4 separate regions of the Homo sapiens genome follow, and all the other regions are linked to region 3. The links come from fine-mapping of genetic effects on gene expression. A gene starts in region 3. Each other region holds a variant in brackets. All regions are shown on one strand. Distances are between the middles of the regions.

Region 1 (7,737 bases), 160 kb before region 3:
CGACCTTCTTTCCCCACCTGGGTTCCTGCAGAATGGGATGCACAGCCTGAGGTTGCCTGGCGAGCATCAGGCAAGGGCGATTTGGCAGCTCTGGAGGGCTGGTGGCTCGGGGCTGTGGGCGAGTCCACAGGGGTGGGTGGGGCCTCCTGGGCTTCTGCTCTCCCAGACTTTGTGAAGGTTCAGCTGCTCTCAGGCACACCTGTCACCAGATGTACACGTCACCCATGGTGGGGGTCCAGAGGGCCCAAGGGCTTTATAAAGGGGTGAATGGAGGGAGGTGTCTGTGGCTGGAGCCCCGGACTCTGCCCAGTGATATAACAGACAGGAAGCTGAGCACACTGAGTCCCAGCCTAGTGCAGGCATTGGCACTGACCCTGTGCTCAGGGCTGACAGACACCATCACATTTAACTCTTACCACGGCTCCAGGTGAGAGCCGTGGAATAAAGGCAGCTGCTTTATTCCACAGGCTGCGTGACTAAGGCACAGCTGGTGCCGTCACTAGAGAGGCAGTGGCCCCGGGCTGCTGGGCTAGCAAGGGCAGAGCCGGCATTGGAACCCAAGCCCTCTTGTCCTGCGGTGTCTCCTGGCCTCTGGAGAGGATGGCCCATCTGCCCTGTACAGATCCCTCCCTGCTCTTCATCTGTTGGAACCCAACTCCTCCCCACTGCTGGTGCTGCTTTCCAGGTCACCAGGAACAACCCGTGGACTCCTGGCTTGGCTTTTACCATCTTGGTTGTTCTTGGCAGCGTTCAGCACTGTTGCCCAGGAAAAGAACTGAGGCTGTTGACTTGGAAAATAGGAGATGGGGAAGTAACTGCCTGCGGATAGAACCAGCCTGTGCAGTCAGACCTAGACCATGCCCTGCTCCTGTGCAGTGCCCCCCTAGGGTTGGTGGCACATTGATGTTAGCTCGTTTGTGGGGTTGTGGCCTTTGTGCCTTCAGTCTGGGCAAGTTCAACTGCATGCACCGGACAAGAGAGGAAAATAATTAAAACACTGTGGGCAGTTCTGTCAGCCGCTCTTCTCTTGAGGGTCAGCCTAGGCAGGGAGCTGGCTCTGCTGTCCCCTCTGCCACTCTCACCTTCCATGGGCCTTTGGGAGCAGGAGCCCTGTGCCCTATGCAGTGGGAGTCTAAGGCATAATGATGCATCTCTTTCAAGCAGCGTGGCCCTGTGTGTAGAGCAGGTGAATTACATGTGGCTCAGCCACAGAAATGGCAGTCCAGAAGCACTGTGGGAAAGCTGGCTGTGCTCAACTTCCTGGGTTCTGAGGGTAATTCTCACTCTGCGTAGTCCTTCCTTATCCCCGGTAATAGACCCATGGGGAGCATAGGTCCTCTCTAAATGGAGCAGGCCAGGAGCTCCCTGACACCCAGATGCTCCGACCCCACCCCCTACCACCCACGGCCTCCCGCCTCAGGAAGTCTCTAAGTCGTGGATAGCTTTATGGGTCCTTAATATCTGGCAGGCAGAATGAATGGGCAGAGAATCCAAAATGGAAAAACAAAAAGTTTTAACCTTTGCTCATTCATTTATAGCTCAAAATAGAGATCTTTCCAACTTTGTAATCCAGTGGGAGAGGTGGGATGCAGTTTATAGATACTTGATTTCTGTGCCAAGTTCACTGGCCACACAACTCATATGTAAACTGTGGCATAGATGTAGCATTTAGAAGCTTTTTATTACTATTATTATCTTTTGAGAAAATATGAGCAAGGAAGAGAAAACCCACACTTCTTACAGTTCCTGGATCTGAATCTGTTTGCTTTTCTGTGTTTACAGAAATTATGATTTTAAACCAAGAAGAAAAAATGGAGATTCCAATACCAGGAAAGAGCAAAACTCTGACCTCTGACTCCAGCTCGTCCTGCATCTCAGCAGCTGTCCCCGTGCCTCCCTGCCCCTCCTCGGAAACCTCCGAGTCACTGCTCAGCAAGGACCCCGTGGAAAGCCCGGCCAAAAAGCAACCCAAAAATAGAGTCAAATTGGCAGCCAACTTTTCCTTAGCACCTATAACCAAGCTTTAACTCCCATTTGGAATATAGAATTAGGATGGGAAAACACTGTCTGATTCTGCACACAAAAGTGGGTTTCAAAAATACATCCTTTTCTGTGTCATGAAAACCCCCCGAAGCCATTGACTTCATCTTACCTGTGTTCTATCATGTTTTTCTTTTCCATTGAACACAGCTTTGAGCTGAAGTCTTTCTTTTCTTCTTCCTTTTTCTTTCTTTTTTCAATTATTTGAAGAACTTGTGGCATTTGTTAAAGAATCCTTAATATATTTTACCAAATTTTTAGTAACTATTATGAAATACAATGGTGTTCCAAAAGAAGAAAGCACTAAAAACTCAACTAGCAGGAAGCGGTTTTGCTTCCATTGAGCCACGTCGGTGGTGTCATCCTACATGTAGCATAATAGAGTCTCTCAGCCTTTGCTTACTGGTGTTTCCGACAGTATTAACCCAGTGCGTGGCATGTCTTTGAAGCAAAGCCTGTCCCGCTAGCCTGTGTGTTCACACACCAAAGGAGAAGGGTAGGCGAGGGGTTCGGAGTGTATTTTCAGGTTGGAATGTGAAGGTTCCTGGCTTCCATGTGACTTGTAAGTGTGCCTTGTTTTTTATTTAAACTATGTCTGTAGTTGACAAAAGTGGCTTCATCACAAATTTTTTTAAACGTTTCTACTTTGGGGTTCCATTTAGGAGCTTTCTAGAAAGTTGAGGATGTTTGAAGCTTCCCTTCTGTGTTCCAGTTTGATATGGGTTAGGTTAAGGAAAAGGAGATGGTCTCGATGTCATGGATTTAAAGTCAGCATTTGGATTACAACACACATTATTGTGTGTCGAGAGGCAGCATTGGAAAGAGCCTGATTTTCTAAAATATGCATCAAGTGCATAAATTACAAATCAGAGCTGAGTGGGGAGGTGCTTCAGCAGCAGCGGGATCAATACGATTTCCACTGGGAAGAGACAGGAATTCTACCTACACATAGGAAGGCCAAGGTTGATCCACTTAACCTTGTTATTGTAATTTTAAAGCTGGTATCGGTAGCTGGGAAGCTTTATGTGTGTGTATGTCAGCTCAGCATCTTTTAATCGTGTCTGATTTTACTCTCGTTACTTCTCGCTGTTGGAAGCATCTCTGGGTTTCTTGTGGCGTCTGGTGTGGAATGGCCTTCCTCTCTAGGTGCCTGAGGTGTCCGCTGACGGGTGGCCTCTCACCCCCCTCTAGAGAAACCTGACATTTACAATGGATTGTATTTGTCCGGCAAAAAAGGCGGATTCATTCATAGAGCAGAAAGAACCTGTTGGCGTAAGGTCTTCCACTAGTTAGATGGTTTCTTTTGGGGAAATGTTTATATTTGGTAACTTCTAGAAAGCCAGAAAATGGACTCTGATTTCATAGCATTTTGATAAAATGCCACAAAATAAGGGCTATAGAGAGATTTTTACAAGTCAGATTTTTTGTTCCCCAAATCTTTTAAATGAAGCCAGTGACTCCCAGTTCTCAACACATGGCCCCAGTCAAGACAGAACACCATGGAAAAAACCCTGTAAGTATTATGGCACTCTCCGAATCCTCCTGAAGGCATTTCCTCTACAGACATAGTGTTACAGGAAGTGAAATGCAAATGTGCAATTTTTTTTAAAGGAGCTTTTAAACAAAGTAATAATAATTGGTGTTGAGAACATCAGTTGCCTTATTCTAAGATTTCATAAGGCTGAGTTTGCACGCTTGGACTTCAGTTCTGCTAGCATGTAAAGAGTGGTGGACTTTAAAACCGTAAGAGGTATCATTACAAGTCACCTGGAACAGACTCAAAGAACAGGTTCTTTGGGCAACAGACAAAGAAGAATCAAGTTCTGTGCTGTCCCGTGAGTGTGTCTGAGTACCATTCACTGGAGTTGCTGCTTAGGTCTGGGACGTGTGTGTGACTCTTAACAATTGCTGTCTGAAAATGAGAGAGAAGACTTCGGAAGCACATTGTGTTCATAATGTACTCCACAATGGCCAGTCCAATTGCTATCTATTTTTTTATCCAGAGGCTTAATTAAATGATGTGGTAAAATGATGTTTGAGCATTAAGACAATGTAATTCTTTATTTCTGGGTGGAAAGATATACCGGATTAAATTTATCTGTTTAAAAAAATGACAAAAGTTATCACCAAAACCCCCTTTCCCATCTTGCACTGTTTGTTTTGGATTGGGTTTGGGGGAAAGAGATGTTTTTCTTAGTTGTCTACTTTGTTTGAACACTTTTGTTGTGGTTCAAGTGCTGTTTTGTGTGTTGGGACCAAACAGTTGTCAATAAACTTTACAAGCGAGCATCTATTTTGAGTTTCCCAAGTGAGTGGTTTTGTCTGTCTGTCTGTCTGTGGGGAGGAATTACAAACCAATACAGTTCTGCCATCTTTCATTTTGGGTCTCCTCAACTTCTCTCCCCTTCTGGAAATAGAATTGTGAGGTGGAGAGTAAATCCGTCTACATCTTAGAGGCCTTTTAAACTCAGCACACGCCGAAGCAGGTGGCTGGATGGTGGGCCCTTCGTCGTCAGGATCCTCCAAGTTTTCCAGCCTTTGTTCCAGCTTATAATTACATGTGGGAAAATACAGTAACCACAAAAACCTTCCAGTTAGAAAACTCTATTAATTCCTAGGCTCTCTCTTCTTGTGAAAGAAATCCAGCGTGCCCGCTGTCTCGTTTTTGGTCACTGCTAAGCATGCTTTTTGAATAAGCCAATTTGGAAAAGAGTTATTCCACAGATACAGTTGTGAAGCCCTCCCATCCCCTGAGACCGCCATTACCCCGTCACCCCTGCCACCAGCACCCTCTGGCAAGAATTTAAAAGGACCCAGAAGAGACTTGAGTAAATTGCTTCTTGATGACATTTTTTTCAAGTTCAGCAATGTTAAAAGCTGCTAAAGACCTTTCCAAACATTTCACGATGGCAAATTTGTGCAGAAAAAGTTGAGTAGCCATCGTGCCCCTTTTGAGCGGCGTCAGGAGGTCTTGTTAGGTGTGGACTGGGGCTGGAACGGTGGCTTTGCATTTATCTTTGTTT[GTTTC/C]CCACCTAGGAAGGTGATTCAGAGGTGGGGGCCTAGAAGACAGCTGTCTGGGGGAGAGCAGACCTGTCCGTAGCAGAGGGGGCTGCGCTGATTGAAGAAGATCTGTTCCCTCTCTGTTCCCTTTGCCAGAAGGAGCGTTGCGCTTTGGGATTCACCTTCACTTTCTAGCTGCTTCCATGGGCAGAGGGTGAGTCATGGCGCAGAAGCCCTCAGCGGCCTCCACCCACCTGCTGTCCCCATTGCTGGGGGGGGGGGCGGTGGGCGGCAAAACTTCCTCAATTCTCCTAGTGTCCCTGGCTGGGCCTTAAACTGACAAAGACATTAATAGGAAAAAAGCAAACAAATTTTACTTCATACCAGTTTTGCGAGAGTCTTCATAAGGAAATGAAGACCCCAGAGAAATGGCTAAGCCTGAGTGGTTTTTTGTTTTGTTTTTTGGTTTTTTGAGACAGTCTCACTCTGTCACCCAGGCTGGAGTGCAGTGGCATAATCTCAGCTCACTGCAACCTCCACCTCCCAGGTTCAAGCGATTGTCCTGTCTCAGCCTCCCGAGTAGCTGGGATTACATATGTGCACCATCACACTGGCAAATTTTTGTATTTTTAGTAGAGATGAGGTTTCACCATGTTGGCCAGGCTAGTTTTGAACTCCTGAGCTCAAGTGATCCTCTGGGCTCAGCCTCCCAAAGTGCTGGAATTACAGGCATGAGCCACCACGCCTGGCTGAGAACGCTTTTTTTTGGGGGGGGGGGGGGCGGGGGGAAAAGGGCTAGAGAGCTTAGAAGGTGCCAAGCCAGAGCACCAAGAGCCAGAACTTTCCTTAGCAAGATGAAGAGAAGAATACACACGTTCCGGGAAGGAACGCCTTGGAAGTGGGGGAGCTGAGGTGCAGAGGAAGAAGGCATTGCAGGGTGGAAGGGGCCGTTCTTAGAGGGAAATCCTGCTCAGTGGCTGGGCTGCTCAGCTCCTCACTCCGCACGAGGTGGTGAACCAACCAGGAGCATCCGCAGGGGAGCAGTACCAGGGCCAGCAGGGAACATATTGGGCCTGCTTGGCACCGTCTCTTCCATCCGCCTCAGGCAGCTCATGTGATGGCCTCCAAAGGCTTCCCAGGTGCAGGGCCTGGGCATGAGGGAACCCCCGCTCCTACCACCCACCTGCCCCCACTGCAGTTTCTGGTATCAGCAAGTGCAGACAAATCCACACTGGGGCTGCAGGGTCGCCGCCCTTGGTATTTCAGCAGCCAGAGTCTGATGCATCAAGGGCAGGTGTGGCAAGAATCAGGAAATACATTTTTTTTTTTTTTGAGACAGAGTCTCACTCTATCGCCCAGACTGGGGTGCAGTGGCACGATCTCGGCTCACTGCAACCTCCTACCGGGTTCAAGCGATTCTCATGCCTCAGCCTCCGAACAGCTGGGATTACAGATGCTGCCACCACACCTGGCTAATTTTTTTTGAGACGGGGTTTTGCCATGTTGCTCTGGCTCGTCTCAAACTCCTGGCCTCAAGTGGTTCACTTGCCTCGGCCTCCCAAAGTGCGGGGATTACAGGCGTAATATAATATAGATATTATATATAGATATAGATATAGATGTCTCTATAATATCTATATATAAATAGATATATCTATTATATATAATAGAGATATATATCTATATATAATATATAGATATCTATATATTATATATAGATATATATCTATATATTATGTATAGATATAATATAGTCACACAGTCAACCATGCCCGGAACCCCCAAGCCCCCACTTTTTTTTTCCGAGATGGAGTCTCACTCTGTTGCCCAGGCTGGAGTGCAATGGTGCGATCTCGGCTCTTTGCAACCTCCGCCTCCTGGTTTCAACCGATTCTCCTGCCTTAGCCTTCCGGGTAGCTGGGATTACAAGCATGTGCCACCACACTTGCTAATTTTTGTATTTTTAGTAGACATGGGGTTTCACCCTGTTTTTTAAATTCTCTAAAAGGAAGAGGACACTTTTTTTGTTGTTGTTGTTGTTGTGTTGTGTTGTGTGTGTGTGTGTGTGTGTGTGTGTGTGTGTGTTTTGAGACAAAGTCTTGCTGTGTCTCCAGACTGGAGTGCAGTGGCGCAATCTCGGCTCACTGCAACCTCTGCCTCCCAGGTTCAAGCGATTCTCCTGCCTCAGCCTCCCAAGTAGCTGGGACCACAGGCGCCCACCACCATGCCCAGGTAATTTTTTTGTATTTTTAGTACAGATGGGTTTTCACCATGTTAGCCAGGATGGTCTCAATCTCCTGATCTCGTGATTTGCCCGCCTCGGCCTCCCAAAGTGCTGGGATTACAGGCGTGAGCCACCGTGTCCAGCCCTGTTTGCTTTTAAATGGGAGAGACCTGTTTAAATCCCTCCGATGGGAAGAGAAAGAACAATTGGGGCTACAGTGGTGGGGAGGGAGGGAGATGAATGATGACTCTGTCACTAACAACCCCTGGGACCGTGGGCAGTGGATTTACTGCCACTTCCTCATCTGTAAAGTGAGAAGTGATAACAGGATCTGACTCACTGTTTCAAGTGTTTATTCTGCCTCCGCTTGCAACCTCTTGCAACCTCCGCTTGAAAAGGGTAATGGATTTACTGCTACTTCCTCATCTGTAAAGTGAGAAGTAATAACAGGATCTGACTCATCAGGCTGATGT
Region 2 (6,293 bases), 30 kb after region 3:
CTGGCTAATTTTTGTATTTTTAGTAGAGACGGGTTTTCACCATGTTGGCCAGGCTGGTCTCGAACTCCCGACCTCAGGTGATCCACCACCTCGGCATCCCAAAGTGCTGGGATTACAGGTGTGAGCCACTATACCTGACCTAGAATACCTTTTAACCACACAAAACAATTGCACAGTTCATTCCATAAAAGAGTAAGAAATACTAGGCCAACAAGATGCCTAGGTAGTATTATATTTCAGACTAAGCTGATTAACTTAGACTACTTAAGGCCTCTAGAGTGAGGGGGTTGGGGAGTTGTGGGGAAAAAAGCTATTAGGTAGAAGACATTCCTATATTAATTATATTTTTAACACCAGAATGAAAAGTCTACTAGAATCAGTACCAATTCTGGAAGACAGCGGCTTTGGAAATGACAGCATGTATATATGCATTGCAATTTCCTGGTTACCATGAACAAATGATGCAGGAATATATTTGTAAATACAGAATCATCAATGAATTCTTTTTTTTTAAATTAATTTTTTTTTTTCTGAGACATGGTATCTCTATGTTGCCCAGGCTGGTCTTGAACTCCCAGGCAAAAGCAGTAGTCCCACTGCAGCCTCCCAAAGTGCTGGGGTTATAGGCATGAGCCACCTCATCCTGCTGAATTATTTTATTTATTTATTTTGTTTGAGATGGAATCTCATTCTGTCGCTTAGTCTGGAGTGCAGTGGCAAGATCTTGGCTCACTGCAACATCTGCCTCCTAGGTTCAAGCAGTTCTCCTGCCTCAGCTTCCTGAGTAGCTGGGATCACAGGTGCCTGACACCATGCTCGGCTAATTTTTGTATTTTTAGTAGAGACAGGGTTTTACCATGTTGGCCAGGCTGGTCTTGAACTCCTGACCTCAGGTGATTTGCCTGCCTCGGCCTCCCAAAGTGGTAGGATTACAGGCATGAGCCACTGTGCCCAGCCTTGAATTGTTGAAACTATATACCAAACCATTGTTTATGGAATGATTTTCTAATAATATATTGAAACCATGTGATGCTATAGAACAAGTTTAGCTGAAATTTTCATATATTACAAAATATGTTAGATAGACATTTCACAAGCTTTATCCTACACAGTCCTATGAAAAAGTCATCATTATGATTTTTTAAAAAAAAGTCTTGGTATGTAAATTTATCTCAAAAAACAGCTAGAGGTTTTCAAAATAGTCCTTAAAAGTGGTATTACAGACTTATTTTCTTCTTTTTACTAATTTGTATTTTCTGAAGTTTCTAAAATGAACAATTGCAATAAAAGCTTTATAATATTTATGTTTATATTTAAAAGTAGATATTACATATAATGTGTGTATACATATACATATATACGTATATATACACATATATACGTATATGTGTATGTATATATATATATTTTTTGAGATGGAGTTTTGCTCTTGTTGCCCAGGCTGGAGTGCAATGGTGCGATCTTGGCTCACTGCAACCTCCACCTCCTGGGTTCAAGTGATTCTCCTGCCTCAGCCTCCGAGTAGCTGGGATTACAGGTGCACACGACCATGCCTGGCTAAATTTTGTATTTTTAGTAGAGACAAGGTTTCATGATATTGGCCAGGCTGGTCTCGAACTCCTGACCTCAGGTGATCTGCCCGCCTTGGCCTCCCAACGTGCTGGGATTACAGGCGTGAGCCACCATGCCCGGCCATAATGTATATTTTATATTTATTTATTTTTTTTGAGACGGAGTTTCGCTCTTGTTGTGCATCTCAAATTCCCGAGCTCAGGTGATCTGCCCACCTCAGCCTCCCAAAGTGCTGGGATTACAGGCGTGAGACACCGAGCCTGGCCCTTAATTGTTAAATATGCTTTAAATATAAAATATACCCCTGTAATCCCTGCACTTTGGGAGGCCAAGGCAGGCAGATCACCTGAAGTCGTGAGTTTGAGACCAGCCTGACCAACATGTAGAAACCCTGTGTCTACTAAAAATAAAAATTAGCAGGACGTGATTGCAGGAACCTGTAATCTCAGCTACTCAAGAGGCTGAGGCAGGAGAGTCGCTTGAATTCGGGAGGCAGAGGTTGCAGTGAGCTGAGACTGCACCATTGCACTCCAGCCTGGGCAACAGAACGAGACTCTGTCTCAAAAAAAAAAAAAAAATTAAAACTTTAGCAAAAATAATCAGAAGACTAAACTTATCCAAACATGGCTTTCCTTCTTTCTTTTTTTTTTTTTTCTTAATACAGACGAGGCCTCACTATGCGGGCCAGGTTGGTCTTGAATTCCTGACCCCAAACAATCCTCCAACCTCCGCCACCCAAAGGGTTAGGATTACAGGAGCCACTGTGCCTGGCCATGGCTTTATTTCTTATGGCTGTGTTTTTTTTCTTGTCAGAATGTAGTATCATGTAGTAGTATATTTTGTTCTCAAATCATTCCCCCACTAAAAGGAAGCAGGATGCCTCAAAGAATTGGCTGATTCTAGGGCCAGGGCAGGGCAGGTGCAAGTACAAGATGATCCTGGAACACGCTGTCATGCCAGAAAGGAAGTGGCTTAAGAAAGAAGTAAAGGAGAAAGAAGATGGGTGATGCACAGGACACAGGAACCAGCTTGGGGGAACTCCCACTGGCCGAATCTGGGACATGTGAGCGCTAAAAATAATTAAACCCTGCCATGAACTCTCCTCTGTGCTT[C/G]GGCAATCTCCCTCTGAATAGGCCAAAGGCATCTGACATTCAACATTTCCCAAGCTGAACTCACCTCATTTCTTTTTTGTTTGTTTGTTTGTTTTGAGATGGAGTCTTGCTCTGTCACCCAGGCTGGAGTGCAGTGGTGCAATCTCAGCTCACTACAATCTCCGTCTCCCGGGTTCAAGTGATTCTCCTGCCTCAGCCTCCCGAGTAGCTGGGATTACAGGCACTCACCACCATACCTGGCTAATTTTTTGTATTTTTAGTAGAGACAGGGTTTCACCATGTTGGTCAGGCTGGTCTCGAACTCCTGACCTCATATGATCTGCTCGCCTTGGCCTCCCAAAGTGGTGAGATTACAGGCGTGAGCCACCATGTTTATTTTTTTAAATACAGACAGGGTCTTGCTATGTTGCCCAAGCTGGTCTTGAACTCCTAACTTCAAGGGATCCTCCTGCTTCAGCCTCCCAAAGTGTTAGGATTACAGGCGTGAGCCACCACACCTGATATGCTTCCTTATTTCTTATGTGAACTTGGTCACGATAACCACCCACTTTGGTTTCCTTTGCTGCCATTACCTAACTGTGAAGTTCAAGATCCTCAGCTCTGGGTGTTCAACAGTCTCCAGGATCCAAACTCATTCCAAGTTGCTCAACAAATACTCTGTGAACACCAAACTGCCTGTGGTTTCTCCCCTCCAGGCATACCATGGTGCTTTACGCATTGTCAACTGTACTCAGCTCTTCTGCCCCTGGAATGACCTGTCCCCCAGTATGTGCATAACTTCAGATCTTTATTTTATTTTATTTTTTTATTTTGAGACAGGGTCTCACTGTGTTACCCAGGCTGGAGTGCAGTGGCACAATCGTAGCTTACTGCAGTCTCGACCTCCTGGGCTCATGCTAATTTTTGTATTTTTAGTAGAGAGGGGATTTCATCAAGTTGGCGAGGATGGGCTCGATCCCTTGACCTCATGATCCGCCTGCCTTGGCCTACCAAAGTGCTGTGATTACAGGCGTGAGCCATCCTGCCTCTTTAAAGGAAATCTTCCCAAAAAATCTCCAGATGGGCTGGGCTTCAGACTACTGGTTTGCCCTCTTTCTTCTCCTGAGGGTAGATGAGACTCACTCATTGTAACCAGTTTTTTTTTTTAAACAGTATGCAAATGTTCCTGTGGTTTTGTTCATTTACAAATCCCTGCCTGAAGCTTCTTTCCCAATTCTACTTCCTGCTCTCTTTTTTTTTTTTTTTGAACCATGGTCTCACTCTGTCACTCAGGCTGGTGTGCAGCGGTGCAATCACAGCTTACTGCAGCCTCGACCTCCCAGGCTTGCAATCCTCCCATCTCAGCCTCCCGAGCAGCTGGGACCACAGACACTTGCAACTATGCCCAGCTAATTTATTTTATTTTTGTAGCGATGGGGTCTCACTATGGTTGCGCAGGCTGGTCTCAAACTCCTGGGCTCTAGTGATCCTCCTGCCTTAGCCTCCCAAAGTGCTGGGATTACAGGTGTGAGCTGCCTACTTCTTGCTCTTTTTTTTTTTTTTTTTTTTGAGACGGAGTCTCGCTCTGTCGCCCAGGCTGGAGTGCAGTGGCGCAATCTCAGCTCACTACAGTCTCTGCCTCCCGGGTTCAAGTGATTCTCCTGCCTCAGCCTCCCAAGTAGCTGGGACTACAGGCTTGTGCCACCATGCCCTGCTAATTTGTTGTATTTTTAGTGGAGACACGGTTTCACCATGTTAGCCAGGATGGTCTCGATCTCCTGACCTTGTGATCTACCCGCCTCCACCTCCCAAAGTGTTGGGATCACAGGCATGAGCTACTGCCTCCGGTCCTTGCTCTTTAAAAAAAAAAAAAAAAAAGTTAGATGTACATATCTCCATAGACTTTACAACATAATGGAAAAACTTGTTCCTTTTTCTAAAGTAAAACAGAAGAAGTGGCTGGGTATGGTGATTCATGCCTGTAATCCCAGAACTTTGGGAGGCTGAGGGAGGCGGATCACCTGAGGTCAGGAGTTCAAGACCAACCTGGCCAACATGGTGAAACCCTATCTCTACTGAAAAATACAAAAAATTAGCTGGATGTGGTGGTGCAAGTCTGTAATTCCAGCTACTCAGGAGGCTGAGGCAGGAGAATTGAGAATTGCTTGAACCCGGGAGGCAAAGGTTGCAGAGTGCCACTGCACTCCAGCCTAGGCTACGGAGCAAGACTCCGTCTCAAAAAACAAACAAACAAACAAAAAAACCAAAACACACAAACAAAAAACAAAACCAGAAGAAAATCACATTTGGTTGTCACCATGGGGTCCTCAATTTCTGCCCTAAGAGAAATCACAAGAGTTCTGAACACACTTATAGTTACTGTTCCTGAGTATAGAGGCTCAGGGGAAGCCTCTGACTTCAAACCTCTCCATCCTCTGCCTCTAGCCATCAAGTAATGCTGGCTCAGGGGCCTGGTACCATCCAACAGATGATGCTAGAAGCTGTGGAGGTAATAGCTGGGTGTGGCTCAACACTGCTTTTGATAGGGAAGGAAGAACATGTGAAGCCCTAGGCCAGTCTGCGAACATTCTGTAATCCCAAAGATTTACCTCCTTGTGATGAATGCAATCAAACATGCTCTAGGGCAGAGATGAAAACCATCCCTGATTTTGCCAGGCCTTAAGGACACTGTTCAATAAATATTAACTGAATCAATGAATAAATATGTATTGGACTGGACTGTATATATTTGTGCCGAGCAAACAGTAAAAATGCTGATTTGCTTCAAACCTTGGAATAACCCTTGGAAACCTTCTCCTTCTCTATCAATACCTTTGTGATGTTAAAGTTCTTTTCACCAGGACTCCGCAGGATGCTCACCTGAAAACATTGGCTCTGAATGTGGGAATGATTCCATTAAGCCACTCACAATCTATAATCTCTATTTTGCAAATAGAATCCCAAATTTACAGAATAAATTGTTGTCCCTTTGGCTGCAAAATTTACAAAGTAAATTGTGATCATTACTAAGAGTTAATATAATAAAGTCAGAAATCACTGAGAACATGGACTAAAATTCAGAGATATTATTTCTTTTCTTTTCTTCTTTTTTCTCTTTTTTGAGATGGAGTCTTGCTGTATTGCCCAGGCTGGAGTGCAGTGGTGCGATCTCGGCTCACTGCAACCTGTCTCCAGGTTCAAGTGATTCTCCTGCCTCGGCCTACTGAGTAGCTGGGATTACAGACATGCACCACCGTGCCTGACTATTTTTTGTATTTTTAGTAGAAACAGGGTTTCACCATATTGGCCAGGCTGGTTTCAAACTCCTAACGTCAAGTGATCCGCCTGCCTCAGCCTCCCAAGTGTTGGGATTACAGGCATGAGCCACTGCACCGGGCCCAGAGACATTATTTCTTTCCAGTTCATGAGAAGTACAGATACTCTTAAAACCTCTCCTCATACATCTATCAAAATAACTTTAAGATTTCTATGTCAAAATATTGGACCCTTCTGTCAACCAAACTGGAGCTCTAATTTAGGAATAGTTTAATAAAAATGTACTTAATGTTGAGGTGGGAGAATCACTGGAGCACAGGAGTTCAAGGCCAGCCTGTGCTACATAGTGAGACT
Region 3 (7,737 bases):
CCAACATAGTGAAAACCCCTCTCTACTAAAACTACAAAAATTAGTTGAGCGTGGTGGCAGGCGCCTGTAGTCCCAGCTACTTGGGAGGCTGAGGCAGGAGAATGGCTTGAACCTGGGAGGCGGAGGTTGCAGTGAGCTGAGATCATGCCACTGCACTCCAGCCTGGGGGACAGAGTGAGACTCCATCTCAAAAAAGAAAAGAAAAACCAGATTTGAGGATCCACGCAAGTACAGATCAGGAGCTGTTCCTCTTGCCTTTGACTAGGAAGCAAGACTGAGTCTTTGATGGTTTGAAACAGAGGGTAAGAAGGACTTTATACCAGACTCTTTTTTTTTGAGAGGGAGTCTCACTCTGTCACCCAGGCTGGAGTGCAGTGGTGCAATCTCGGCTCACTGCAAGCTCCGCCTCCCAGGTTCACGCCATTCTCCTGTGTCAGCCTCCCCGGCAGCTGGGACAATAGGCGCCCACTGCCACACCCAGCTAATTTTTTGTATTTCTAGTATAGATGGGGTTTCACCGTGTTAGCCAGGATGGTCTTGATCTCCTGACCTTGTGATCCGCCCGCCTCGGCCTCCCAAAGTGCTGGGATTGCAGGCGTGAGCCAATGCGCCTGGCCTTATACCTGACTTTTAACAGTGTGCAGCATAGGACCCAGAAGTACAAAAATTTCAGGATTGAAACTGCTGTAAATTGGGTGCTTGCTGCAATTTTCCTGCATGTTTCAAATTTTTTCTCATAAAATGTTAAGATATAAAAAGCTACAAGGGCATTATTGAAGAATTGACCAATATTTACATAATTCCTTGCAAAGAGTAAAAGCAGGTTCTGTCTATAAATGTTGTGCAGTAACCGAATGGAAGTGAACAATACGTATTGAGCACTTAACCTTGAGTACTATATGTATCATCTTATTTAGTATACACAATAAAGACATAATCTCTATTTTCAGAAAATGAAGGCAGAGTGAGGCTTAGCAATACTCCTAAAGTCACATAGCCAGCAAGGCACAGAGTGAGGATTCAAAGCAGCACTCTTGTGAACAGCTTCCATTCTGCGTGGACCCAGCATTTTTTTAAGGCCTCTGTGAGCTTCAGAGAGCAACAGGGCTGCCACATAATTATAAAATCACTGAGCATGTTCTGTGACTATCTCAATAGACTTAGGAAGTTTTCTGAAACCATGAAAGCAATAAACCTTCATGTTAAAAGCAGGCTCTGGGGTCCAACAGACCGGGGTTCAAATCCTGGTTCTGCCACTTAACTGTCAGATCACCTAACAAGTCCCAGTTTTGTTTTGTTTTTTTAAATCTATGCAAGATTTTAAATTTATATTTAAATTTTTTATTTTAAAATGTTTTGTTTTAAAATTTTTATTTTAAAATGTTTTTTTAAATCTAGGCAAGATTTAAATTTATAAATCTTAGTACTGCAGGAGGTTGTTGAGGGGACTAAATGAAATGATGCATTTAGAGTTCTCAGCACATGGTCATCTAGCAATAAAAGGCAGCCATTGTTGAGATTATTTTGAGCTTGTAAGAAACAAGAGACCCTCATGGAGATACAGAGTAGAATGATGGTTACCAGAGGCTGGGGAGGGTATTGGGATGGGGGGACACAGAGATGGTTAATGGGTACAAAAATATAGGTAGATAGAATGAATAAGATCTAGTATCTGATAGCACAACACGATGACTACAGTCAACAATTTATTGTACATTTAAAAATAACTAAAAGAGGGCAGGTGGGGTGCCTCACACCTGTAATCCCGGCACTTTGGGAGGCCAGGGCAGGCCGATCACCTGAGGTCAGGAGTTCGGGACCAGCCTGCCCAACATGGTGAAACCCCATCTCTACTAAAAATACAAAAGTTAGCCAGGCATGGTGGCGAGCACCTGTAATCTCAGCTACTCTGGAGGCTGAGGCAGGAGAATCGCTTGAACCCAGGAAGTGGAGGTCGCAGTGAGCCGAGATTGTGTCATTGCACTCCAGTCTGGGCAACAAGAGCGAAACTCCGTCTCAAAAAAAAAAAAAAAAAAGCTAAACTAAAAGAGTATAATTAGTCACACAGCTGGGCTTTTTTAAAAAAGGAGTGTAATTGGATTGTTTGTAACACAAAAAAAAGGATAAATGCTTGAGGTTTTGGATACCCCGTTTACCCTGATGTGATTATTACACATTGTATGCCTGTATCAAAATATCTCATGTATTCCATAAATATGGACACCCACTATGTGCACTTAAAAATTAAAGAAAGAAACAGAGACCCTCAGCCCTGACGCCCTGATATTATGCCAAAGCACCAAGTCATTGGGTCTTGAAAGGATGAACTAGAAAGAAAGACCAAGGTTAAAAAGGGAGAAAAAAAAAGAAAAGGAAAGAGGTTGGCAGTGCTATGACATCCATCCTAGCCCATGAACCACTAAGACATTGGATTGTGATTTCAACTTCAACCCGTCAGAATCAGAACACAGTTGAGCCCTTCTAGGAAGATTTTCTAAATCCATAATTACAGGTATAGAGAAAGAAAGCGCGCACACACAATTTTCCACCAGGTGAGGACAGAATAAGATCACATTCACAATACTTTAGCCCTACATCGCTCAGAGATCCGTGCTGGGGCAGAGCGCGGAGCAGTGACCCAGAGCCGAGGCAGGAAGCTGCCGGGTCCCTGAGAAGGACCTCTCCTTCCCAGCCTGGTGGGCAAGCCATGTGAGAGCAGCGGCTTTGGGGAGCCCCCGGGTTTGCAGGGACCTCCAGTGACCCTGGAGCCCCTGACGCTGCCTCTACACTTTGAGGGCAGGAGTTTCAACTATTGTATCCTATTAATGAAAAACAAAATCCTTCGTTTACTTAGAAATGTTGACATCCAAACACCGCAGAGAGAACCAGTAAATAAATACAGCCGGTCTATTTCGAAACTGCCTTCTAGAGTTGTGCCCAAGCAGACTTTAACTGAGTCAAGAGAGAAAAGAGAACGGTGTGTGCCTTTTGACCCTTTTGCCGCCCCAAGCCTCCCACCCCGACCCAAGGAAGGCGAGGGAGGAAAAGCTGGGAATTTCAGGTGCGCTCCGAAACCTCACGCAGGGGGTAGGAAAGCAAGCGGAAAACCAGCAGACACTCCCCCCTCTCCAGGGACGTGGGCGCTTTCCAGGACGGTCCCGCGTCTCCAGCGCCCTGGCGCATCCCAGGCGGAGAGAGGATCCTCCTCCCTGGGCTGTGGGAGAGACCCGACTTCACAGGACCAGCTGCGAGCTGACGGATCCGGGACTCCTAAGTCGAGCCCAGGCTCCTGCCTTAGCTGCCTGGCCATCTCCCAACCCTCCCAGTGAGGCTCAGCCCGGAGGGTCCCCCCCTTTTGTTCGCGGGGAGAGCGCGTCGCTGCGCAGAGCTGCGTATCCCCCTGAGCTGCCAGCCCCGCTGCGGGGGCGCTTCCCTGGGTCCACTGCTGGCGTTCCTCGCGCTCCCGCGACCACCCGCGCAGGCGCATGGATCCCCAGCTGTCCCCGGCCCCCCGCCCCCCGCCCCAGTACTCACTTCTCCCCAGTCTCTCCGTTTTCCAAGCCGTCTCCTCCACCGCCCCATAGCGCCTCAGAGGCTTCTCGGCTTCCAGATGGGTGGACAAAGATTGCTTTAATTCCATCGCTGATCCCCGTGGCCAGGTCGACGGGTCTCCCTTTACTCCATTCCCGTTGCGGGCTGCAGGGAGGGAGGTGGCTCCAGCCAGCAGCGTTTTAACGGGCCGGGCGCCCGTGACGCTGCTCCCTCTCCTCCGCCGCCGCCAGCGCCCGGGAGCGCCTACGGGTACCCAGAAGGGGCAGGGATGCACGGCACATGCGCAGTGGAGGCTTGGAGGGGAGGCTTGGGGGCTGGGTAGGGAGACAGAGGGGCAGGTGATAACTCTAAGAAAAACAACAAACAAAACAACTAAAATAAAAGCAACACAAAGGAAGTGAGAACAAGGCCCCTGCCTATTCTAGAGCCCCTAGTGATGCTTGGCATGGGGCTGGCACTGTGGGCGGCTTGCGAGCTGTAAGCCGGCAGCGGGTTTTGAGTGGGATTGGTGAGCCCGTCTCTACCTGCGGGCGATGCATCCGTCTTTCTGGGGAGCATGCAGAGGCGTGAGTGTGGACCTAGATCTATGGGTTCTGGGCTTGGCTGACTGCTTTTCTGTGAGAATATCTGTCGTGTGCGTCTGTTTAATTTGAAGTGCGACAGTGGATGCCTATGTCAGTTCCATATGTGTTTGCATGCACTTTGGGGAGAGAGAGAGAGAGATGAAAATATTTTGCACACAGGTATAGCAGAGCTGTTTGGAGCATGGGGCTTTACTTTCCAGAAACCCCAGAGGTTTATCTTTAAAAACAAACAAACAAACAAACAAAAAACACCATGGCAGTGCCTGGGCACGATGGCTCATGCCTGTAATCCCAGCACTTTGGGAGGCCGAGGTGGGTGGATCACTTGAGGCCAGGAGTTTGAGACTAGCCTGGCCAACATGGTGAAACCCCATCTTTACTGAAAATACAAAAATTAGCCAGCTGTGATGGCGCAGGCCTGTAATTCCAGCTACTCGGGAGGCTGAGGCAGGAGAATCGCTTGAACCTGGGAGGCAGAGGTTTCAGTCATCCGAGATCATGCCATTGCACTCCAGCCTGGGCAACAAGAGGAAAACTCCGTCTCAAAAAAAGAAAAGAAACGAAAAAAAGAAAATGATATCCCAGTAGGAAACAGGGAAAGAATATGAATAGTCATGTCATGTGGGCAGAGGAGGAAGGCCTAATGTGAGAAGCTGCTCAACCCCCTTAGTAATAAGGAAAATGAAAATGTAAATAAGAATATATCATCCGATAGGCAAAAACTAAAAAATCTAACAATCATGTGTTGTAAAAGATGTGGATTTTTTTTTTGAGACAGAGTCCAAAAATGCTGGGGTTACAGATGTGAGACACCATGCCTGGCATAATTTGAACTTTTATCTAATGCTAGTGGGAGTATAAATTGGTACAACTGTTTTTTTCTCTCTGTCACCCAGGCTGGAGTGCAGTGGCATAGTCTCGGCTCACTGAAACCTCCACCTCCTGGGTTCAAGCTCCTGAGTAGCTGCGACTACAGGCGTGCCACCATGCCCAGCTAATTTTTTGTATTTTTAATGGAGATGTGGTTTCACCATGTTGGCCAGGCTGGTCTCGAACTCCTGAGCTCAAGTGATCTGCCCGCCTTGGTCTCCCAAAGTGCTGAGACTACAGGAATGAGCCACTGTGCCTGGCTGCATGAATGTAATGTTTATTGTTCTCAGGTATATATGTATAACTCTACAAATTATATATAATAGCGCTATTTAACATTTTCTTATAATTTATACAAATGATATCATACTTTATAATTCTGCAAGTTGCTTTTTTCTGTTGTTGTTCCACAATATGCTTTTCTTCCTTTTAAAAAGATAGAGACAGGTTTTCACTGTGTTGCTCAGGCTGGTCTTGAATTCCTGGGCTCAAGTGATCCACCTGCCTCAGCCTGCCAAAGTGCTAGGATTACAGGCGTGAGCCACCGTGCCCGGCCCACATTATGCTTTTGAGAAATACGAATTCTGATTCATGTAACTCTGGTTCATAGTCTACTGTATAGTATTCTACATGAATGAACCATAATTGGTCTATTTTTTCATTGATGAGGTATAAAGATTATTCCCAATTGTCCACAATTACAAACATGGCAGCAGCAAATGTTTTTATACTCATTTCCCTGTACGACTGAATAGGAGTTTTTCTAGGGGGAAAAATTACAATGGCATGGGGTATGCACATCTGCCAGTTGGACTAGAGTGTCAACCTGCTTTTAAAATTAGTTGTACCAGGCCAGGCACAGTGGCTCACGCCTGTAATCCCAGCACTTTGGGAGGCTGAGGCGGGCGGTTAGTCTGAGGTCAGGAGTTCGAGACCAGCCTGGCCAACATGCTGAAACCCCGTCTCTACTAAAAATACAAAAAAAAAAAAAAAAAAAAAAATTAGCCGGGCCTGGTGGCGCACACCTGTAATTCCAGCTACTCAGGAGGTTGAGGCAGGAGAATCACTTGAACCCGTGGGACGGAGGTTGCAGTGAACTGAGATCATGACACTGCACTCCAGCCTCAGTGACAGTGAGACGCTGTCTCAAAAAAAAAAAAAAAAAACAATAAACATTACATTCAGGATAGTAATTACTTTAGGAGGCTGGGAAAGGGTAAGTAGTTAGTTTCAGCTATATCTAAAATTTATATATTTTTAAACTATTTACAGTATTTTGAAAATTTTTAAATCTACAGAAAAGTTGCAAGTTTAGTACAATAAGAAAAATACAGACCTTGGCCAGGTGCGGTGGCTCATGCCTATAATCCCAGCACTTTGGGAGGCTAAGGTGGGAGGAATCCTTGAGCTCAGGAGTTCGAGACCAGCCTGGGCAGCAAAGCAGTTTTCCATCTCTACAAAAATTAAAACATTAACCAGGTGTGGTGGCACACACCTATAATTCCAGATACTCAGGAGGCTGAGGTAGGAGGACTGCTTGGGCCTGGGAGGTCGAGGCTACAGTGAGGCAAGACCACACCACTCTACTCCAACCTAGATGACAGAGTGAGACCCTGTCTCCAAAATACACACACACACACATATATATATATAGTTTGTGTGTGTATATATACAGTATGTGTATATATACGTTATTTTATATAATATGTATGTTATTTTCTTGTATATGTGTGTGTATATATACAATATATATATATATACACACGCACACACATCCCTTACTAGATTCACTAATGAATATTTAAATTTATATTTCTTAAAAGAGATCTGAAGCATATATGTTAAAATCTGTTGGAGATGGCTGGTGGGCACTACACCCTTACCAGAATGACTAAAATTAAAAAGACTGACAATACCAAATGTTAGTCCAGATGCTAGTAAATAAATGAGTTAGCAGTTAGTAAGAATGTAACTACAATTTATTGCTGTTCGGAGTATAAAATGGTACTACCACTTTAGAAAATGAGAGATAATGGCTGGGCGTGGTGACTCACGCCTGTAATCCTAGCACTTTAGGAGGCTGAGGTGGGCGGATCACCTGAGGTCAGGGGTTCAAGACCAGCCCAACATGGCAAAACCTCGTCTGTGCTAAAAAAATTCAAAAATTAGCCAGGCGTGATGGCACATGCCCGTAATCCCAGCTACTCAGGAGACTGAGGCAGGAGAATCGCTTGAACCCGGGAGGCAGAGATTGCAGTGAACTGAGATTGCGCCACTGCATTCCAGCGTGGGCGACAGAGTGAGACTGTCTCAAAATAAAAAAGAAAGAAATAAAAAAAGACTGGCAATACCCTCTAAAGCTACAAATACATATATATTTTTCTGTCTGGCAGCAATTCTATTCCTGGATATATCCCTAAGAGAAATACATACTTGTGTCCACCAATGTTAAGAGCTTTACTCATAATGACAAGAAATGAAAACAACTCAAATGTCTATCAACAATAGAATGGACAAAAATTATGCTATATTCATACAACTGAATCTGCACAGCAACGAAAAAGACCAAACTACTGGCCAGGCACAATGGCTCACACCTGTAATCCTAGCACTTGAGGAGGCTGAGGTGGGCAAATCGCTTGAGCCCAGGAGTTCGAGACCAGCCTGGGCAACATGGCAAAATCCCTTCTCTACAAAAAATACAAAAATTAGCCAGGCATGGGTGGTGTGT
Region 4 (6,273 bases), 74 kb before region 3:
CAATCACCTCCTCCTTGCCTTCTAAAGATGGCGGGTCCCGAAGATTATCTGGCCACCTGGCCGAGCCTCTGCCAGGGAAGGGTGAAAAGGGAGACACAGTGGAGGGAGAGGAGGGAGTGTCAAAGAGAAGCAGGAAGGAGAGAGGTCAGAGGAGCCACCTCAGGCTGTGGCTTGGGGAGAGGGAGCGATGTCTGTTTGCAGAGGATTTGTAGGAAATGTCTCATGTGATGTGCTGCCTAAAGATCTCCTGGGGCCATCTGGTTATGCTTCAAGGCCCCTGGAATCCAATTTCGGGTCCTACTACTGTCCCTGACACCATGCTGTGGTGGCTCCTGGGATTGAAGCAGTGAGGACAGGCTTGAGAAAGGAGGGAAGGAGGGAGGAATAGGATCGAAATATTAATATTGGCTGGGCACGGTGGCTCACGCCTGTAATCCCAGCACTTTGAGAGGCCGAAGCGGGCGGATCACCTGAGGTCAGGAGTTCGAGACCAGTGTGACCAACACGGTGAAATCCAGTCTCTACTAAAAATACAAAACTTAGCCTGGCATGCTGGCAGGTGCCTGTAATCCCAGCTGCTTGGGAGACTGAGGCACGAGAACCACATGAACCTGGGAGGCAGAGGCTGCAGTGAGCCGAGATCATACCACTACACTACAGCCTGAGGGACAGAGTGAGACTACGTCTAAAAAAAAAAAGATAATTAATACTGAGTGCTACTGTGTGCTGTGATGCTACCAAGCTAGAAGACCAGCCTTACCAGATCAGATGGCCTGGGTTTGAGTTCCAGTTCTGCCCCTCCCTGGCTGTGTGGCCTTGGGGAGTTGGTTAACCTCTCAGCAGCTCTGTTTCTCCTCTGTAAGGGAGCCCACCACCCAAAACAGATGTGAGGGATGAATTACCCCGGCACGTCACGTTTAATATATGCTTGCAATTGCCCTCGTTATGACCGCCGCACCTGCTCTGCCCATCACCTCTTTTAATCCTCGCCATAAGCCAGCAAGTTCAGTAGGTTCTCATTTTCGCAAAGAAACAAAGGCTCAGCGCTGGCAAGGGAAAGAGCTGAGTCCAGGTCTGGCTTCAAATTCATGCTTTTTGACCCTCACAGCTGCCTCTGGTCCAGGCAGCTGTTCTAAGTCCGACACCCCCCATTCATTCCTATCTCAGAGTCAAGCGTGGTGCCATAACAATTCATGGCCAGTGGGGAGGCTTAAAACAAAAGGAATTTAATCTCTTGGAGTTCGGGAAGCCAGAAGTCGGAAACCAAGGTGTTGGCAGGGTCACGCGCTCTCCAGAGGCTCTAGGGATGGATCTTTTCTTGGCCCTTGCAGCCCCTGCTGGCTCCTTGGTTTGTAGTATTAGGTTGGTGCAAAAGTAATTACGGTTTTTGCCACTGGATGTAATAGCATCACTTCAACCTCTGCCTCTGTTTTCACAGGTTCTTCCTCCGGGTGGCTCTGTGTGTCTTCTTTTCTGTCTCATTAGATTTAGGGCCCACCCTAATCCAATGTGAGCTCATCTGGATCCTGATCTGAATTACCCCTGCAAAGACCTTATTTCCAAATAAGGTCACATTCTGATGTTTTAAGATGCACATGAACTTCAGGAGGCCACAAACCCACAAGAATGAATGGCCACAGCCTTGCAAGCTTCCTGACAACAATGTCACTCTCTCCAGGGGCTTGAGATCCTGCACACAGAGCACAGCCTTGGCTGGAAGCAGCAGGGGTCCCAGCGGGAGTCACCAGGGGGTGAGGGAAGTGCATGGGGGAAGTGGGGTCTGGCAAAAAACAGCTAGGCGGGGGCAGTGTCAGAAATCCTCATTTGACACTAGTCATCAGCCGCAAGACCTCGAATGAGTCCCTTTATGTCTTTGCGTCACTTTCCTCCTCTGTACAAGAATTCAATAGTTACCTGTGCTGGAGGCTTTCTGTGTATTATCTCATTTAATCTCTATTTTACTGAGATGACTCTGAGGCTTAGAGAAGGAAAGTGACTTGTTCAACATCACACAGCCAGATCATTGCAGAGATAGTATTCAAACCCAGCTTGTGCTCTCTCTCTCCCCCCCCACCCCCCTTCCACTCCACAACCACGTGACCTTAACCA[C/G]GTAATCCAGCCTCCTGGTGAGGGCTGAATGCATTTGTGCCTGCGAAAGTGCGTAGTTAACCACCCCACGATATGAGTATCCTTGTTTTTCTCATCACAGTTCAGATGGGCAACCTGATTTCCATGGGACAGATGCTGAAAACGGCAACACACCCTGGGGCGAGGCGTGGGACGAAGAGAATTAATCACATCCCAGGAACTGGCATTTTACCTCCATCCCCGGGGGAGGATGGAGGCGGTGGTGCCAGGCTCCAGGTGCTTAGCTTGGATTTGGGGCAAAGAATGGAACAAAGACCTATGTTGAAAAGTCTTGCTCAAGGATGTTTTTCTTCCCCAAGAGAAAGGAACGAAGCCTAAAGCTTGAATCAGATACAAATCGTTAGAATCCTTTCTTGCCATGAGCTGTCTCTGCATCAGGCACTGTGTTGGGCTCATTGTAAACCTCATCTTTTTTTTTTTTTTTTTTTTTTGGTGGGGCAGGGTCTCGCTCTGTCTTCCAGGCTGGATTGCAGTGGCATGATCTTGGCTCACTGCAGCCTCAACCTCCCGGGCTCAAGCAATCCTCTCACTTCAGCCTCCCGAGTAGCTGAAATTACAGGTTCACTCCACCACACCCAGTGACTTTTTTTGTACTATTTGTAGAGATGGGGTTTTGCCATGTTGCCCAGGCTGGTCTCCCAACTCCTGAGCTCAAGTGATCTGCCCATCTCAGCCTCCCAAAGCGCTGGGATTACAGGAATGAATCTCATCTCATTTAGTCTGCACAATACCTTAGGCCAGGGGTTGATACCCTATGGCCAGGGGACCAAGCGCAGCCCCATGCTTGATGTTGTAAGTAGAGTTGTTCTGGACACTGATCACGCTCATTCATTTACATGTCATTTATGGCTGCTTTTGCATTGCAAAAACTGAGTAGTTGCCACAGAGACTCCCTGGCCCACGAAGCCTCAAATATTCACTACCTGGCTCTTTATAGAAAAAGTTGGCCAACCCCTTCCCTGGGTGGTATACTGTAATCTCTCCAGTTTAAAAGTTAGGAAAGCCAGGTTTACCCAGTAACGATAATAACTAACATTTATCGAGCATTTATCACATGCCAGCACCTGTGCATTACCTTATCTGATTCTCAAAACAGCCCTGGGTGGTCAGTGCTGTTATCCCATTTCATAGATGGGGAAGTCGAGGCTCAGGAAAGGGAGTAAGTGATGGAGGTGAGATTTAAAACAAGATCTCTCTTACTCCAAAGCTCTTGTTGTAATCAACCATATTCATGTAAGAACTACCTCCCTACGTAAGTACCATCATCATCATAACAAAACTGAGTAGACTGTATTGCTTTAGACACAGAGGGAGTAGTTATTCCCAGACATCAGTGGGCAAGGTGAATATCTAGGGAGGTTGTTTAAGAAACAATTCCCTGCCTCCACCTCCAAGGATTAGGATAAACCTGGGTTGGGGTGTTGTGTCCAGGGACCTTAATGAAGGAGGTCTTCAGATCAGAGTGAAAAATGCTGATACAGGACCTGAATAAATGAATATCACACACAGTCAGCTTCTTTCCAGTCTGAACTTGTGTGATAGAAATTAGCCTGCTAGACTGTTCCTTTCTTGATCACATTTTCCAACTAGAAGGCAGGCATCCGACAGCTGCCAAGGAATGTCTCCACGAGGAGGACAAATCACGGGAAGAAACGGGAGGAGCATTTCAAGCTGGCTAGAGACAACAAGTCTCTCACGCACACTTCCAAGCAAGAGCTTGCTTGCTGTGTGGAGACAGCAAAGCATGAAGGCACAGACGTCCCCAGGGCTCCAACTGCCACTGCTGTCATTGAGCTTCCAGGAGCTGAGTCACTTCTGGGGGAAGAGGCAGCTAAATCCATCTTCCCATCCCCAAATGCCACCCCAGGGAGATGCATGCTTCCTGAGCGGTGGCACCAGCAAACAAGAGCTGAGCACCCGGGCAGCCCTGGTATGCACCAGCAGGTTTAATCACTGATCTCAAAACAAAACAAAAAGTAAGGCTACCCAGGGACAGGAGTGGTGGAGGTGATAGAGGATGAGGGCTGGTGATCTAAAAACTTCTAGTTTAAATACAAGCTTGGAGGGTTAAACTGCTGGGGACCAGAGAGATACCTTTCCTAGCCCATCTTTTCCAATCAGGGGTCATGGTAGGAATTTAAGCTCAGGGTGCCCTGCACAACCTCTGCCTTTACTTCTGCTTTATAACTTTACGTGCCTAGTACTGGCCCCAGAGCTTGCTCATTTTGGGTGTTTACCGGAGCCATGATCTAGCTCATATCAACCTCTCTTTCTAGATTAATAAAATGAGGCTTAGAGAGGTCATAAGTGATTGGTCAAACTCACTCACTCAATTGTTGCAGCAACATCAAGGGTTCTGTCTAGATCCTGCTACTCGCTGCACAGAAAGCCAATCACTGAGGCAATGAGTATTGCCAGAGAAGGCTTTAATTGGGTGCTGCAGCTGAGGAGATGGAAAGAGACTCAAATCCATCTCCTCAACCCACTAAAATTAGAGGTAGCAAGGAAGAAACGCAACCATGTGTTACATTGTGATACATCCCTATTCTTTTTTTTTTTTTCTGGGAAATTATTAGGAAGGGGTAAGGAAGAGAATCTGGTCAACAGGATGCAGGTGGTTGGTTAGGCAATCGTGATGGTTGAGGAGTCTGGCATCTCATTGTCCACATATAGTGATCTGGTAAATTTCAATTCCTTAATACTATCTGGAAGGCCGAGAGGTCAGTTTCTTGAGAAAGGAACTCAGGTAAAATGAATGTAACTTTCTAAAATTTTAAGATTAGGAGGGGGCTGGGCACAGTGGCTCACGCCTGTAATCCCAGCACTTTGGGAGGCTGAGGCAGGTGGATCACAAGGTCAGATAGAGACCATCTTGGCTAACACGGTGAAACCCTGTCTCTACTAAAAATACAAAAAATTAGCCGGGCGTGGTGGCGGGCACCTGTAGTCCCAGCTACTTGGGAGGCTGAGGCAGGAGAATGGTGTGAACCTGGGAGGCGGAGCTTGTAGTGAGCAGAGATCGCACCGCGGCACTCCAGCCTGGGTGACAGAGCAAGACTCCGTCTCAAAAATAAAAGAAAAAAGAAAAACAAAAGATTAGGAAGGTAAATTTTTGTGTTTATTCAAACAAAACAAAACACCGTAAACATCAGTTCTAAGGGGCAATTGGGGCAGTGCTATAATGAGTGGTAGAAATGAAACTCAAACCCAGATCTATCTGATCCCAATGCCCATGCTCTAAGGTCAAAAGAGCTACAAAACAGTGTTTCCAAAACTCTCAACACTGCATAGAATTTACCCCAGCTACATATTCTGTACTCTGTCATATACCACTCAGTATGTCATGACATTCACTTTTTTTTTTTTTTTTTTGAAACGGCGTCTCGCTCTGTCACCCAGGCTGGAGTGCAGTGGCGTGATCTTGGCTCACTGCAAGCTCTGCCTCCTGAATTCACGCCATTCTCCTGCCTCAGCCTCCCAAGTAGCTGGGACTACAGGCGCCCACCACCACACCAGCCTAATTTTTTGTACTTTTAGTAGAGACGGGTTTCACCATGTTAGCCAGGATGGTCTCGATCTCCTGACCTCATGACCCACCCACCTCGGCCTCCCAAAGTGCTGGGATTACAGGCGTGAGCCACTGCGCTTGGCCGACATTGACTTTTTTTACTCAAACTCCCTAACGGAAATGTCCCATGACATCCACAGACAATAAATGACTCTTACTTGGCATAATTAGAAAATAGCCATGAAAATAAACCTGAGGAAACAAAGCAATACTGTTAAATTCTTGCTAAATACTATAGCCTGCTTAAGGTTCAGAATGAAGCTTGAATTTTCTTTCTTAACAAGGTGAATCAGCAAGTACTAGGGGCATTAAAGACAAAGCTAGCACCAAATTGTGGCTTTCTCCTTTAGGTAATCAAAAAGGTTGATAATTGGGGAGAAAATGCGTAGCTTTCCTGAAGGGAAATTCATTGCTGTTTGATGGTACAAGCATGAAAGTACCACTGGGGGTACCTATCCCATCCCCTGTTGTAGAATAGAATTCCAGTCCTTTGCGTTGGAAAGGTCTTAAACGACGTTTTGGTCAGCCTCATACCTGTGTTGGATAGGATGTAAAAT

Alleles and levels. Positions count from the first base shown, and alleles are read on the strand shown. Sizes are in standard deviations (SD) of each study's normalised expression. Not every link is listed here.
As copies of G replace C in region 4, the expression in whole blood of the gene that starts at base 3,706 in region 3 goes down (small effect, 0.37 SD a copy in Lepik 2017).

What was found.
Region 1: its variant is fine-mapped to the expression of BMERB1 in whole blood (GTEx, PIP above 0.99).
Region 2: its variant is fine-mapped to the expression of BMERB1 in skeletal muscle (GTEx, PIP above 0.99).
Region 4: its variant is fine-mapped to the expression of BMERB1 in whole blood (TOPMed, PIP above 0.99). The same link has a PIP of 0.9 or more in T cells and blood mononuclear cells.

Annotation. Positions count from the first base shown.
Region 1 is chr16:15,590,983-15,598,719 of GRCh38, reverse strand. MARF1 (meiosis regulator and mRNA stability factor 1) reads left to right here. Exons shown (of 27, transcript NM_014647.4): 27 at 1,783-4,333. The coding sequence ends at 2,027. Among named protein-coding and RNA genes, the nearest start is that of MIR6506, 16 kb to the left of the region's middle. RefSeq lists enhancers at 7,354-7,648, 6,995-7,737. The variant GTTTC/C (reference allele first, on the strand shown) is at 5,064.
Region 2 is chr16:15,401,308-15,407,600 of GRCh38, reverse strand. All of the region lies in intron 1 of MPV17L-BMERB1 (MPV17L-BMERB1 readthrough), which reads right to left. The region is part of intron 2 of MPV17L (MPV17 mitochondrial inner membrane protein like); the gene reads right to left. Among named protein-coding and RNA genes, the nearest start is that of MPV17L-BMERB1, 8.7 kb to the right of the region's middle. The variant C/G (reference allele first, on the strand shown) is at 2,685.
Region 3 is chr16:15,430,557-15,438,293 of GRCh38, reverse strand. BMERB1 (bMERB domain containing 1) reads right to left here and starts at 3,706. Exons shown (of 6, transcript NM_033201.3): 1 at 3,535-3,706. The coding sequence starts at 3,640. All of the region lies in intron 1 of MPV17L-BMERB1 (MPV17L-BMERB1 readthrough), which reads right to left. RefSeq lists an enhancer at 2,780-3,402.
Region 4 is chr16:15,505,135-15,511,407 of GRCh38, reverse strand. The region is part of intron 1 of MPV17L-BMERB1 (MPV17L-BMERB1 readthrough); the gene reads right to left. All of the region lies in intron 1 of BMERB1 (bMERB domain containing 1), which reads right to left. The region is part of intron 2 of LOC105371102 (a long non-coding RNA gene); the gene reads left to right. Among named protein-coding and RNA genes, the nearest start is that of BMERB1, 74 kb to the right of the region's middle. RefSeq lists an enhancer at 787-1,287. The variant C/G (reference allele first, on the strand shown) is at 2,110.